2 linked regions of the Homo sapiens genome follow. The protein of the gene in region 1 purifies or fractionates together with the protein of each later gene. This does not show direct contact. Each region holds a gene or a part of one and is shown on either strand. Other genes may lie near its edges.

What was found.
Region 2: the proteins of UCK2 (region 1) and VARS2 purify together in Homo sapiens (affinity purification with mass spectrometry; 2 studies listed by BioGRID and IntAct, with this or other methods). This does not show direct contact.

Annotation. Positions count from the first base shown.
Region 1 is NC_000001.11:165,823,811-165,830,702, reverse strand, and holds the start of UCK2 (uridine-cytidine kinase 2), read right to left. Parts: upstream 3,090-6,892; 5' UTR 2,870-3,089; coding exon 2,771-2,869; intron 1-2,770. UniProt on the Homo sapiens protein: Phosphorylates uridine and cytidine to uridine monophosphate and cytidine monophosphate. Does not phosphorylate deoxyribonucleosides or purine ribonucleosides. Can use ATP or GTP as a phosphate donor.
Region 2 is NC_000006.12:30,917,234-30,924,237, reverse strand, and holds part of VARS2 (valine--tRNA ligase, mitochondrial isoform 2 precursor), read right to left. Parts: intron 6,544-7,004; coding exon 6,432-6,543; intron 5,412-6,431; coding exon 5,323-5,411; intron 4,481-5,322; coding exon 4,390-4,480; intron 4,150-4,389; coding exon 4,022-4,149; intron 3,906-4,021; coding exon 3,802-3,905; intron 3,571-3,801; coding exon 3,489-3,570; intron 3,174-3,488; coding exon 3,097-3,173; intron 3,009-3,096; coding exon 2,933-3,008; intron 2,650-2,932; coding exon 2,547-2,649; intron 2,314-2,546; coding exon 2,243-2,313; intron 2,123-2,242; coding exon 1,997-2,122; intron 1,789-1,996; coding exon 1,684-1,788; intron 1,533-1,683; coding exon 1,464-1,532; intron 1,341-1,463; coding exon 1,262-1,340; intron 1,135-1,261; coding exon 1,007-1,134; intron 886-1,006; coding exon 733-885; intron 1-732. UniProt on the Homo sapiens protein: Catalyzes the attachment of valine to tRNA(Val) in a two-step reaction: valine is first activated by ATP to form Val-AMP and then transferred to the acceptor end of tRNA(Val).

The DNA.
Region 1 (6,892 bases):
CTATCAATCATTCGTATGTCAAAAATGTACAAACAAGCTTGGGCAACATGGTGACCTAGTCTCTACAAAAAATAAAGATTGCCGGCGTGGTGGCGCACACCTGTAATCCCAGCACTTTGGGAGGCCGAGGCGGGCGGATCACAAGGTCAGGAGATTGAGACCATCCTGGCTAACACAGTGAAACTCCGTGTTTACTGAAAATACAAAAACATTGGCCAGGCGTGGTGGCGGGCACCTGTAGTCCCAGCTACTTGGGAGGCTGAGGCAGAAGAATGGCATGAACCCGGGAGGCGGAGCTTGCAGTGAGCCGAGATCATGCCACTGCACTCCAGCCTGGGCAACAGAGCAAGACTCTGTCTCAAAAAAAAAAAATAATAAAAAAAATAAAGATTAAAAAGCCAGCCCAGGTAGTGGCTCACACCTGTAATCCCAGCACTTTGGGAGGCAGAGGCGGGCGGATCACTTAAGTCTAGGCATTTGAGATCAGCCTGGCAACATGGCAAAACCCCTTCTCTACAAAAAAAAAAAAATTAGTCGGGCATGATGGTGCAAGCCTGTAGTCTCAGCTACTCTGGAGGCTGAAGTGGGAGGATCACTTGAGCCCAACAGGTGGAGGGTACAGTAAGCCAAGATCTCACCACGGCACTCCAGCCTGGGCAAAAGAGTGAGACCCTGTCTCAAAAACAAAACAAATCAAACAAACAAAAAAATTAGCCAGTCATGATAGTGCCAGCCTGTACTCCCAGTTACTCCAGGTTGAGGCTGAGGCTGCAGTGAGCTGTGACAGTGCCACTTACTCTGGGCTAGGTGGAAATGCGAGACCTTGTCTCAAAAATTAAATTAATAAATAAAAATGTACAACATGCTTTGAAAACTGCAGAAAAACGGACCCTTCCTTTCTTGAGAGTTTCTACACTCTTCCTCCTGGATAAAAATAGCAGAGAATTAGCTACTCCCACATTGGCTCACCACTATCCCATCCCTCACTTTACCCAAGTAACACCAAAAGCTTGATTATCAAGTTAGAACAGGTGACGACTGAGAAACACACAAGAAGAACAATAACAGAGTTATTCACCTTTTAGGGTCGCAGTTTTCACCCTCGTGGTAACTAAATTATTCAGATGATTACCAAGATCATTTTGTTTCTAAAAGCTCATATGCAAGTTTAAGCCTCCTCCCCACTTTAGGAGGACTGGACTTCAGCTTAAAATTTGGACCCCACTACATGCCAGGCAGGCATTGTGCTAGGAGGGCTGGGAAAACAGCCATGAACAACAACAACAAAAAATGCTCCCAATCCAACAGGAATATGCCAGAAGAGCAAGAATAATTCTAAAAGAACAGGTAAAGCTTCCTGAAGGGCTAGCATTCTGGTTTTGCTTTGAATTACTAGTATAAGTCATAGTAAAGAACATACTCAAAAATTACAAATTTTTTTAAAAGCCTTCAACCAGGGAGCACACAGAACAGAAACTTCAGGACCTAAAGCAGGCCGATTCCTAACCCCGGGAGCTACGGACGAGATCAACTTCATCAATAAAGAAGTCCAGCAGCGCCAGCCGCCGTGTCTGGCTGGGCTCCTTGCGCTAAAGTAGTCCAGACCAGGAGGGAAAAATGTAAAACCAACATGGAGGAGGGGCTACTGACGAGTCGGTTCGGGAGCTAAAACCTCGTGGCTCTTTCCTCATGGCGCCAACCAGCCTTCCTGCTCTGCTCTCCCCAGCCGGGAGAAGCATCATCCTGCCTCTCCAAACCAGCACCCAGCACCCAGCTCTCAGGATCCCTTGAGGAACCCGTGCTCCAAATGAAGTTGGAGGGTGTTAAACGGTGGGAAAAACAAGTAGCCACATCTTAAAGGCTGTTAGGGGAGCAAAGAAAGAACCATCTGGGAGGACTCCACCCTTCTCCACCTGCAGAAAAAACCCCGGGTAAAGCTAGGAAGTCATTTCCCTTGTCTCTCCTTGCCTTGCGGATAAAACAAAGGAAACAGGCTCCTAAGAGGGTCAGACACCCATACGATGACCCCCTTCCGTGGATCCAAGACGCGTACGTCCTGGACACCGAAGAGCTTGGAGCCAGTACAACTTTCTCATTGAAGCCGACCACGTTTCCTCTTATAACCTTAAAAAACAGAAGCCCCTACTATTATCGTTTCATTGATGTCACGGCACCTATTTGGCTCTCAGACTTTTACCCGGAAACCCCTGTAATCCCCAGCCCTTGCGTGCAGCCCCACACTGGGCTCCCCTTCCCCGGGATGCCGCCTCGCGCGTTCCCGCCACCCTCGCCCTCTCGGCCGCGCTTCCCGGCTCGCTCCGCCCTCGGCACCAGGCTGCGCCGCGGGGCGAGCACGTCTGTGCCAGACCGGGGCTTGAGGGAGTCCATCGGGGGTTAGTGGGGGATCCTGCGGAAAGCCCTCTCCCCCGACACTGGAGTTGCAAAACAATAAGCATCCGCTTCCCTGCCCTTCCCCCATAGGACCCCGGCCACGAGTTATTAACGCGGGGGGAGAAAAGCCGGAGGAGCACTCCCGCCCTGCGATCGTGGCCGCGTACCCCCGGAACCCCCAAGGCCCGAGTCTTCGCCTGCCCCCGCCGCAGCGCCCCCAGGCCGCGCGGGGCGCACTCGGCGCTGGAGCGCGGCCGGGAGCGGAGGCGCGCGGGCCACGCGGTGGCTGCCGCAACTGACACGGCCCGCGGCCGCCGGCCACATGCGCCGCCCAGGGACAGAAGCCGGGAAGGGAGCGCGGCTCCGGGCCCCGCCGTACCTTGCCGCTAGCTGTTCCCCCGCTGACGCCTATAAGGAAGGGCTCGCCGCCGTTGGGCTGCTGGTGGTTCTGCAGGGTCTGCTCGCTGTCCCCGGCCATGGTTCGCGCCGCCCCTCCTCCCGCTGCCTGTGCGAACGGACGCACGCTCCCCGCCCGCGCCCGCGTCGGACTCCCTCCGCTTTCCGCAGCCGCCGCTGGGCGCTGCCGGGGCTGAGGCCGCTGTCGCTCGCCTGCGAGCCGCTCGGAGCCCGGTGACGGGGCTGGGTTTCCCGAAGGAGCCAAGAGCCTTCCTTTGCCCGCAGCGGCTGGTCCGGTTTACATCCCAGGCAGAGGTCAGCGTGATGCTGCTGCTCCAATCCGGGCGGGCAGCGCGCTGCTATTCGCCGAGGCGGAGGCGGCGAGGCGTCTGGCCCCAGCCTCCGCCCCTCCCGGGCCCCGCCGCCGCCCGAGGTCTCTGCGAAAGGTGTGAGCCCGACCTTCCCTCCCACCCGCCCGGTTAACCCTTTCTCCGACGCGCCCTAGTGGACCCTGGGGGAAAGAAACAGGCTGTTCTGTATTTTAATTTGGTATGCTACCACCTATTTTCAGAAGGGATAAAAAGCTTGAAGGAAATAATAGGCAGATTAGATAAGAAGGAATGGCCCAGGTTTGAGAAGCAAAATTTGAACAAGCTTGAAAGATTAGTGTGGAACGAAGAGTTAATGTCATTTACCCATTATCCAGGCTAAAAACTTGTGTTTCCAAAAAATGAGGGTTCTTTTTCCCTTCTCCCGTTCGCCAAGATAATATGTCAGCCGCTGGCTTTAGATATTTCCTGTCTTGGAAACCCCCCAGCGCCATCCTTTTTAGCAGGCCTGTCCTCGTGCGACTCTCTAGTGAAGGGCAATTTGAGGGGCTTATCTGAAGGGTGCCCTCCGTTGGAAAAGCAATTCCCTTCTAAACCACAGTATCTCATCCCATACACTGAGCTTCCTATGGAGTTAGGGTATCTGAAAACATACTGACATTTTGATCCATTAATATCTTCAATTGAACGGTTTTCCAGAGATTGGCAATCAGTCACTTAGAAAGGCAGTTTCAGACTCCACCTCTGGAGCCAGATTTCTGCATTCACATCCAGGTCCCTGAGCAAGTTACTTAATCTCTCTGTGCTTCAGTGTTCTTATCTGTTAAATGGGAATAATAATGGCAATTACATCCCAGGATTTTTGTGAGAATTAAATGAATTAGTGTATGTAAAGTTCTCAGAACAGTGCTGGTACAGTCTAGGCCCTGTATTAGTGTTTGAAGAGAAAAGGTTTCTAAAGCGCTGAAACTGGAAAGAAAAGTTTTGCTGGGACACACCTGAGAGAGGCAGGACTAGCCTAGTAACTTCCAGTCTCTTCTCCTGTGAACTTGGGACTAGTATCAATGAGCTGATGGGGCCTACAATCTAAAACAGAATTTACGTCAATAGCATTATCTTTTGAAACTTAGTAAATTACCTTAAATTGAAGATTATTTTGAAAAAAATAATTTTCTCTCAAGCCAGGGAAATCGAGGCTGCAGTGAGCCATGATCTCCCCACTGCACTCCAGCCTGGTCAGCAGAGCCAGAGCCTGTGTCAAAAAACAAAAACAAAAACAAAACAAAACAAAAAAAAGGATACCAGAGAAAACAAACTTTTTTCACTTTTAAATTAAAGTTGACACTTGAACAACACTGGTTCAAACTGTGAGGTTCACTTTTATGCAGCTTTTTTTTTAAACCAAGGGCAGATGGAAAACACAATATTTGTGCAGTTTCCTCAGGACTGACTGTGGGACTTCATGTGTGGATTTGGTTACATGTAGGCTGTCCTGGGACCAGTCCCTCCGCATATATCTAGGAATTACTGTATTTTATGTCACCATCTAACATCAAACTCGGTAGCAGCTCAGACAGGAGACAAAGATGGGGAGAGTGGCCACTACCTGGTACCCAGAAGCAGGCATTTGGGTGAAGTTTCCTAAAGGGGTGCCTTACCAAATAGCTATGGAGTGGGTGAGTTTTAGGTGGTCCTAGAGTTAGCCTCTTCTCCAAAAGGTCTTTTCTCTACTAGATAGATTTATTAGTCATCATGGACTTTTGTAGAACTCTTTATAGCCCATTGGAATTTGGAAGTTGAACCTACAGCTAAGGGTTAGCATGGGGATATTAGGTAGTTAAGGAGAAGAGGAGGAGGATAAAGGAATGCCAAAGGCCAGTGGGGTGGCTCATGCCTGTAATCCCAACATTTTGGGAGGCAGAAGAGTGAGGATCACTTGAGGCTAGGAGTTTGAGACCAGCCTGGGCAACATAATGAGACCCCCATCTCCACAAAAAGTACAAAAATTAACTGGGCATGGTAGTGCACACCTGTAGTCCCAGCTACACCAGAGGCTGAGGCAGGAGGATCACTTGAGCCCAGGAGTTCGAGGTTGCAGCTGTGATCATGCCATTGCACTCCTCTATCGACTTGTCTCTTAAAAAAAAAAAAAGAATGCCATGTCTTTCATAAACTTTTCTCAAATCTGCATCTTCCTTGTCATTCCTATAGTGTTTATTCCATAATATTTTATCATAAAAATTTTCGAGCACAGTTGAAAGATTTTACAGCAAACACCAGTATACCCACCACCTAGACTCTATCACTAACATCGTACTATATATATACTTGCTTTAAAACATAACTGGTCATCTACCCATCCCTCTATCCATCAAGGCATTTTTATTATAGGACTTACTTCCTTTTGCTTTGTTAATTTTAATTGACTTACTCCACACTGGCTTATACATTTCTTGTTTGGTTTGTTTTGTTTTGTTTTTAATTACTATATCCCCAACGCCTGGAACGGTTCTGGCACCTTGTAGGGCCTCAACAAATGAAAAGAGATAATGTCTCATTTCTACATCCCCCAGGCCCACTGAGCAGAATGATAAGCAAGTAGGAAGCATTTAATACATGATAAATGAATGAACAAATGAATGAATATGGAAGTAAGGACACCAACAAGTAAACTTAATTTCCGTCACTTTGGAAGGAAAGGCTTGTTCCCTTGATTGTATTAATGTGGTTACTATACTTATTTCTGAATGTTTTGTTTTCCTGGCATTCCAGAGTGACTGTCCCCATCTAATCTTAATGCATCTATTACCTAGTTGAGCTAATTCATTAACTGAGCTAATTCTCAATACTTCTCTGCACTTTGTTTAATAATAATAATATTTGACCTCTGTGCATGAGTTAATATACCTGAAAGTGTCTGAAAAAATCAAAAGCATTCTATATAAAGGTAAGGCCTAATTAGCAGAGGGCAGCCATCTGCATTCTGTACTCCCTGTTTTTCTTTCTCCTTCCTATCCCTAGGGCTGGCTTGCCTACATGTAAGGAAATTACCCGTGTCCATTTAAATTATGAAGAGTACTCTCAGCTCCACTGACCTCAACAAGGACTTTCACATCTCTGCCCCCTACAAAGCAAGGCAAGCTGCCTGTGCTATTCCCTGTGCTGTGTCATCCTCTCTTGGGAGCTTGGTCACCAAATCCCATAGCTAGGGATGTTCAAATCACATTTGAGCCTACCATAACAATTACACTGCAGATTCTGAATTAAGTGGTTTTGAGCTGTCCTCCTTTTCCTCCCACTAAAAAAAAAAAAAAATCTAATTTTTTAACAAAATTCAGAGTTAGAACAGATTCAAGGAAATACATTTTCTTGGTATCTGTGATGATTTTTTTTTCTTTTACAGATTTCAGTCTGATCAAGTTCTGGCCTAGTTAACATTTGGGCACGAAGTCAGCATGAGTATGCAAGTGCAGCTGTAGCCAAAGAACAATAAGAGACATTGCTGTTGACAGTCCTTTGTCTGCCTGCCTTCTCCCCTTGAGTAGCCATAGTTCTGAACTAGACAAGGAACGTTACATTTTGCACCCAACTGAAATGTTCTTTCTCTAGGTGCTTCATGCACCATGATCAGTTCTCTATTTGTTTATCTCATTCCCCAGCCAGAAAAATAGATGTTATCACACTTCATCATGTATCCAAAGTATTATCGTTCTCTGTATTACCTTTCTAATTACTTTCCACCTTTTATCAATCAGCAGTTGCTTTGTCAGATCATA
Region 2 (7,004 bases), on another chromosome or scaffold:
AGCACTTAGCACTTCTGATATGATCCACAGTCCCAGGACACACTCAGCACAAAGAAGGGGACTCCAGGACAGCAATTCTCTGCAGTACACAGGGACAGGATTTCCAGGGAAACATGTAGTTTAGGGAAAAAAATCATTGAGTTTTTTGCTTATCAACAGGGGACAGAGGTTTTTAAAAGGCTGAGCTAGGGCAGTGGTCCACAGCCAGCAGCAGCAGCACCACTTGGGACAAGAAATGAATATTCATTACACCACCCACCCCCACCCCAACCTGCTAAAGGAGCCACTCTGGGGTGGCAGTGGAGCGGGGGGGATCCACCGTCAACAAGCCCTCCAGGTGCTTTGGACGTAGGACAGCGTGAGAACCCCTGGTCTAAAGACCGCTGCTAGTCCCTCCCAGGCCTCTCTCAGCACGCAGCCTGCCCATGGGCCAAACTCAGCAACTACAGGGACTGAAAAAATTCCCCTCTGCCTTCTGACACCGACTTGTCAGACATTTCTAGAAGTCTCCCTCCTCCTCCTCTCCCCAGGTGACAGGCAGGCAACAGTGCCTGGGCTGCACTGCCAAAACCAGTCCCAGGAAGAGGGGAACTGAGACTCCCTCGTCTCCTCTCCTCTCCTAACTGAGGGGACAATTGGGAACTTATTAACTCCAGAGCTCTCTGCCTTGGAAATTTCCAGAGGAATTAGAAGCAGGCATGGGAATACCAAGCCTCCCCCAGCCTCACTCACCAGGTAGACGTCACAGAGGTTGTGAAGCCAGAAGTGGTGCAGGGCATGAGTGACGAGCGAGAGCTCTCGGGTGAGGAAGCCCCGCTCACACTCCTGGGCAGCCAGGGCAAGGCGGCTCAGGATCCAGGCATCCATCGGGGAGGAGGGAGACAGCTGCAGGCAGAGGGGGCAGGATGGCCTGACTCCCCCTCCCCTGCCTCCTTTCCTTCCAGATGCCACCTTGGCCCTCTGACACCTGACTACCCTACTCCCAAGCACCTCTGTTTTCTCTTACCTCCTCAGCAGGCTGTGGCACAAATTTCTCCCCTAAAGCATTGAGGATAAAGCGAAGAGCATTCCAGATCTTGTTGCAGAAATGTCGGCAGCTCTGGACCTCAGAGACTGACAGGTGCAAGTCGCCCGCTGGAAGGGAAGAATCGAGGTAGTCTGCATGTAGGTGGCAGCAGCACCAGAAGTCCTGCCCCTGCCCTGCCCCTGCACAGGTGCCCGCTGCCCTCTGCTCACCCCGACACCCCTCGCCCAGGCTTACCCTGAACTCCATGGGAGCAGAGTGTGAATCTCAGGGCATCTGTCCCACACTCAGGGATCCCGTGAGGAAAGTCCTTTTTCTGCAACCAGAGGAAGAAGAAGGGTGGCAGATGCCTTTGTGGCTGCAGGGCCAGGACCTGGGTTGCAGAGGAAGCCAGAGGTGGTGAGCTAGAGCTGGTGGGGGGCAGGCAGCGATGACTCACCTGTGCTGCAGCCACAATGGCCAGCTCTGCAGGGTCCAAATTTCCGCTTCTCAGCTTTTCCTGCAGCACCTGGGGATGGAAGGGGGCAATTCACGACCCAGGTCGAAGGCCCTGCCTCTATAAGGGTCACACCTGCTGGCCTCACTCCTCCCTCAGCCTGCCTTCCTCTCTCCTGCAAACCCTGCAAACCTTGTCCCTCTAGTGGGTGCTTCGTCCTCACCTGCATCTCCACCCCACTGATGATGTCTCTTGGGTCCAGCACATTCCCCAGGGACTTGCTCATCTTCCGGCCCTGCCTGTCCCGAACCATGGGATGAAGAAGCACCTGGGGGCAGGGAGGGGTCAACAGAGGGGGGTTTCCTTGGAGGTGCCTTGGGATCTCTGGCCTCCATACTTTTGGGGGTAGGGTAGGAAGTGAATTAGGAAAAAGGAATCAGCAACGTGGAAAGGACCACATTAGGGGTTAGAAGGGAGGACAAGGTTTGGGGAACACTGGAGTCACAGAAAGCGGCAGGGCACTGAAGGGCTCTTACCTTGCTGAAGGGCAGCTGCCCTGTGAGCTGGGTCCCCAACATGACCATGCGGCCCACCCAGAACAGCAGAAGGTCGCTGCCCGTTTCCAAAAGTGACAGGGGGTAGAAACGAGCAAGGTCTGGGGTCTAGGGGGAAGAGGAGCAGTAAGAGGCCCAGGCCCCAGGCCCCCCTCAAGCCTCTGTGGGGGCCCAGCCATCCCTTCCTTATCGTTTCCCCTTCACTTTCGCCCTCTCAACCCACCTCACCTCTTGGGGCCAGCCCAGGGCAGAAAAGGGGAACAGGGCAGAAGAAAACCATGTGTCTAGGACATCAGGATCTGGGAAACAGAAAAAGAATGGGGACAGTTGGAACCTTGGCTTCTAGGACCTCAGACCACTGCTGCCACCATTCTAGGCCAACCCCCACCCCCAGAGACCAGGGCTGTCCCCTTTGGCTCCATTCCCAACTTTCCTGACCCTACCTTCTGTATCTTGGGATCTGTTCCCCTCAAAGGCCCAGATGCCCAGGCCCCCGCTCCCCTGTACATCCCTCCCCAGCTCAGGCACTCACCCCTCTCCAGGGTCAGCTCTGCCCCTGGCCTCCCTGTCAGTTCCGCTGCTACCTCTCTGGCCTCAGCCTCTGACCGCCCAACCACCCAACAGTCCTCTTCTCCCTGCAAAAGTAGGAAGGGGTTGGGGAGAGTGAGGAAGAACAGCTGACAGGTGTAAATGTCACTTGGTTTTCACGTCCTCATGTGGTCTTAGAGTGGCCAGGTTCCCCCAGGGGTGAGATAAAGAAATGCCACTTCAGGGAGCCTTGATCGCGCAGAAGGTTACATGACTATGAGCATGAAGCACATGACCAGGCAGGAGCGGGACTTGGCCCTGCGGAGCTCTGACTCCTGGGCTAGGTGCTCTGTGCCACACTCGGCCCTCCGGGTGCTTCTTCCTACCCACCTGCGCATGGTCCTCTACAACCAGGTAGGCTGGAATCTGATGGCCCCACCACAGCTGCCGGGAGACACACCAGTCCCTGCCGGGAGGACATTCGTGAAGTCTTAGAATAACCAGTCAGTCCCCCCTCCCCATCTCCACAAGAGCTCCCCTTACCCTACCCTTACCCAATATGGGAAAACCAGTGCTGCCAGTTCTTCTGGTGGAAGGAGGGACTGAGCTCCAGGGCCCCCGACTCCACAGCCTGGAGAGAAAGGGGACTTTAGACAATGTTGCCCTTCCTGCACGGCCGCACCTCCACAGATAGGACGAGTGGCCTCTGAGGTCATTTTAAAACTCAGAAAGGACCTCCCAAGCCTCTTGCCAAGATTCTGGGCTTGAGTAAGGATATGAGCCAGCCCTTGCTGGGCCGCCCAGCCTCCATCCCACACATCCTCTCAGTTACCACAGCTGGAGAGGTCTTCAGGGCAGGAGGTCTCCTGCTTCCCATTTCTTCATTCCAATTCTCAGGGAGCTCCCCCAACCCCTGGCCCCAGTCCTTCCTACACTGCAGCCTCACCTTGGCAGCTCGGGCCCCCATTTCCTGGCAGCGGACAAACCACTGGTTCTTCAGCAGGTATTCTATCACATCCCCAGAACGGCTGAAAGAGAGACAGGGTGAGTCCACTGCTCTTCCGGCCCTGTGACTTCTCCCAGGGGCACAAGACCCCATGCCATGCCAGGCCCTTGGTACTGAGGATACAATAGCGAATAAAACCGACACGGAGCTCGTATTCTAACGGAGGGGTGCAGAGCCCATCCTATTGTCACCCTTAAGCTCCATACATTCCCTTTTGGGGTAGCCCTTAGTAAAGGAGTTAAAATGAGGTTACCTGCAGATGGGCAGTACCATGGGGTGGTTCTGGAGGCCCCGGAACAGGCCCCATTCACTCAGCACAGACATTATCTTTTCCCGGGCCACAAACCGGTGAAGACCCTGGAGAAAAAGCGGCAAGAGTAAAGACTGAAGGCCTCTAGAGAAATAAGAAACTAGGAGGAGGATTAGGGGGACAGAGAGCCCCCAAAGGATGGGGTAACATAGGGTGGTACCACCTGCAGCCAGTCCCCGCAGAGGGAGGTCATGGTCCCATCCTCCGCAATGACATTCAAGGGGCTCAAGCCATGTCGGGCCCCCATCTCAGCATCGGCAGGACTGTGAGCTGGAGTCACCTTCACTGCCCCTTGGGGAGCACAGCCATGGTGAGTACTGAACCTGACCTTGGCTTTTGCTTTTCCAGATGTATCATCATCACCTGCACCGCCCCAGCCCCTGCGACTTTCTCTGTCTGTGCCTCCCTCCCATTCCCCACTCAGACCACCCTATATGAGGATCTCCCACTCCCACCTTCCTCTTCCTCCTGGTTCCCTCCCCTCTCCTCCAGGACCCCCAACTTTCTCTCCCTCCCCTGACTTCCACTCACCCGTGCCCACATGTGGCTGAACAGCATAGTCTGTGATGAGGGGAAGAGGCTGCCCCATCAAGGGGTGACGAAGCTGTCGCCCGTGTAGATGCTGAAGGGAAGGGAGAGGGATCAAGGACAGGCACCTGTGAGGGTTGGAAGGGTCTGGGCTGGGGCGTGAGAACCCCAGGAATAAGAAGGTAGAAAGTGGAAGGTAGCAAGCTAGAGCAAGGTCAGCAAACTCTTAAGGGGCCAGAATGTAGATATTTTAGGCTTTTGGGCCTAGAGACAAATTCATTCTCAGCACAATTACTCTATTATGCCACTGCAGCAGAGCTGGAGAGGGTATATAATAGCAGCCATAGATAATATAAAGGCTGCAAGCAGCCAGGCGCGGCGGCTCACGCCTGTAATCCCAGCACTTTGGGAGGCCGAGGTGGGCAGATCACGAGGTCAGGAGATCGAGACTATCCTGGCTAACACAGTGACACTCCGTCTCTACTAAATAACATTACTTAAAAATTACATTACTTAAAAAAAATTAATTACTAATTTTTGTAAAAATACAAAAAATTAGCTGGGTGTGGTGGCACGTGCCGGGCATGGTGCCACGCTCCCAGCTACTCAGGAGGCTGAGGCAGGAGAATTGCTTGAACCCAGGAGGTGGAGGTTGCAGTGAGCCAAGATCACACCACTGCCCTCCAGCCTTGGTGACAGAGCGAGACTCTGTCTCAAAAAAAAAGGCCGCAAGCTGGATTAGGACCATGGGCCAGTTTGTCAACCCCTGAGCTACAGAAAAACTATAAGAGGAGGAGGGAGTCCAATCAGAACCACTGAGAGAAGTCTCAGGAAAAGGAAGTAGAAGCAAGAGAGAAAGAGCCACCATTTAAAACCCAAGAGAAGAGAAGGCCATTGGCGGGGCGGGCCAGAGTGCAGGAGCGCACTGGGTATTACTGTGTATCGCGAGTCGTCTGGATGAACGGCCACAGCCACATCTCCAGGCAGCGTCTCTGGCCTTGTGGTTCCTACCACAACCTCTGCATCTGAAGATAAACATTTAAACACTTACAGCTGGTCATCATCCTCACCTCTCACTGCCAACATAGCTAAAGGCAGTAGAACTGGAAAGGGGAAGGGGCAGGGAGTAGTCAAGGTGGAAGAGGCCCCCAGGAGTGACTAGAAAAAAGTAGGAGCAGTGTTTATAGGAACCCAGGGTTTCCCATAAGCTGATGACCAGAGGTCTGAGAGGGTCTCTGGTGCTAAAGAATTCCCTGATAATTTGCATGGAAGAAATGGGGGCAGCATTAATTAAAGCAACTATAATAGAATTCTTGCTGGGTGCCCAGAGGACACTGGGGATTCTCAGTGTCCTAATCACAAATGCTGTACATTCCTCAGGGGGAGCACCAGCTCCTACAAGAAGCTTCCACTGACAATTCCAGCTCATCTGTCTTCCCTTTCTCTGAGCTCTTCAGAACATTTACCGTAAAAACCACACCTTAGAGGCCAGGTGCAGTGGCTCACGCCCGTAATCCCAGCACTTTGGGAGGCCAAGGCGGGCAGATCACGAGGTCAGGAGTTCGAGACCAACCTGACCAACATGGTGAAACCCCGTCTCTACTAAAAATACAAAAATTAGCCAGGCCTGGTGGCACGCGCCTGTAATCCCAGCTACTCAGGAGGCTGAGACAGGAGAATCGCTTGAACCTGGGAAGCAGAGGTTGCAGGAGCCGAGATCGTGCCATTGCACTGCAGCCTGGGTGACAGAGTGAGACTCTGTCTCAAAACAAACAAACAAACAAACAAAACAAAACATACCTTAGAACTGATCTCTTTCCTGGGTAGCGCACTCCTGAAGAATCACACCACACTCTCAAAGGGCAGTGACCACATGCACTTTTTGTACATCCCCCAGAAGACCCTGGGTAAGTGCCCACGCTGAGGTGAACACTACCAAGGTACATGTGAGAGATGGACTGATGGGTTCCTAGCAGCCCAACATGGGCTTCAGAAAACAGGAAAAATGGAGGTAAACGGGTGACCCTGCAGAGTACTATGCTCACCAGGCTCTCCATCCACGGGGAAGGCAACAGAAAATAGGAGGCCAAAAGACACGGGGGTGGGGCAGCCAGGCAGTCGAAGCTGTGTGTGGCCAGGCAGGGGCCGGTTCTCCACCTGGAGGCACCGAGAAAGCTGGGTCAGAGGGCAGCCTTTCTGCAAGGCTCATGCCCAGGCTTCACTCTGCCACTCATCCATCTGCCCAGCCTCCCTGCAATCCATCTAAAAGCCATTTGGAGGATTCGGGAGCTACCTCCCTCTGCCCTCACCCAATGCTCGTGCAGTCACACTTCTAATAAATATTCACTGAGCACTTAAGCCATGGCCAGGTATCTTGCCAAGCACCTATGTGAATTCTCATTTAATTTTTACAACACCCCCACGATGCAAGCATTCCATCATCTCTAATTTACAGACTGAGGAAGCTGAGGCTTAAAGAGACTAAACGGCCTGCCAAAAGCCACACAGCTGTAACAGGCAGGCATCAGATTTGAATCCAGGCACCCTGGCTCCAGAGTCTGAGCTCTTAATCATTGACCACTCTGCCTCAGAGCTCTCACAAACCTGCTTCCCTCTCT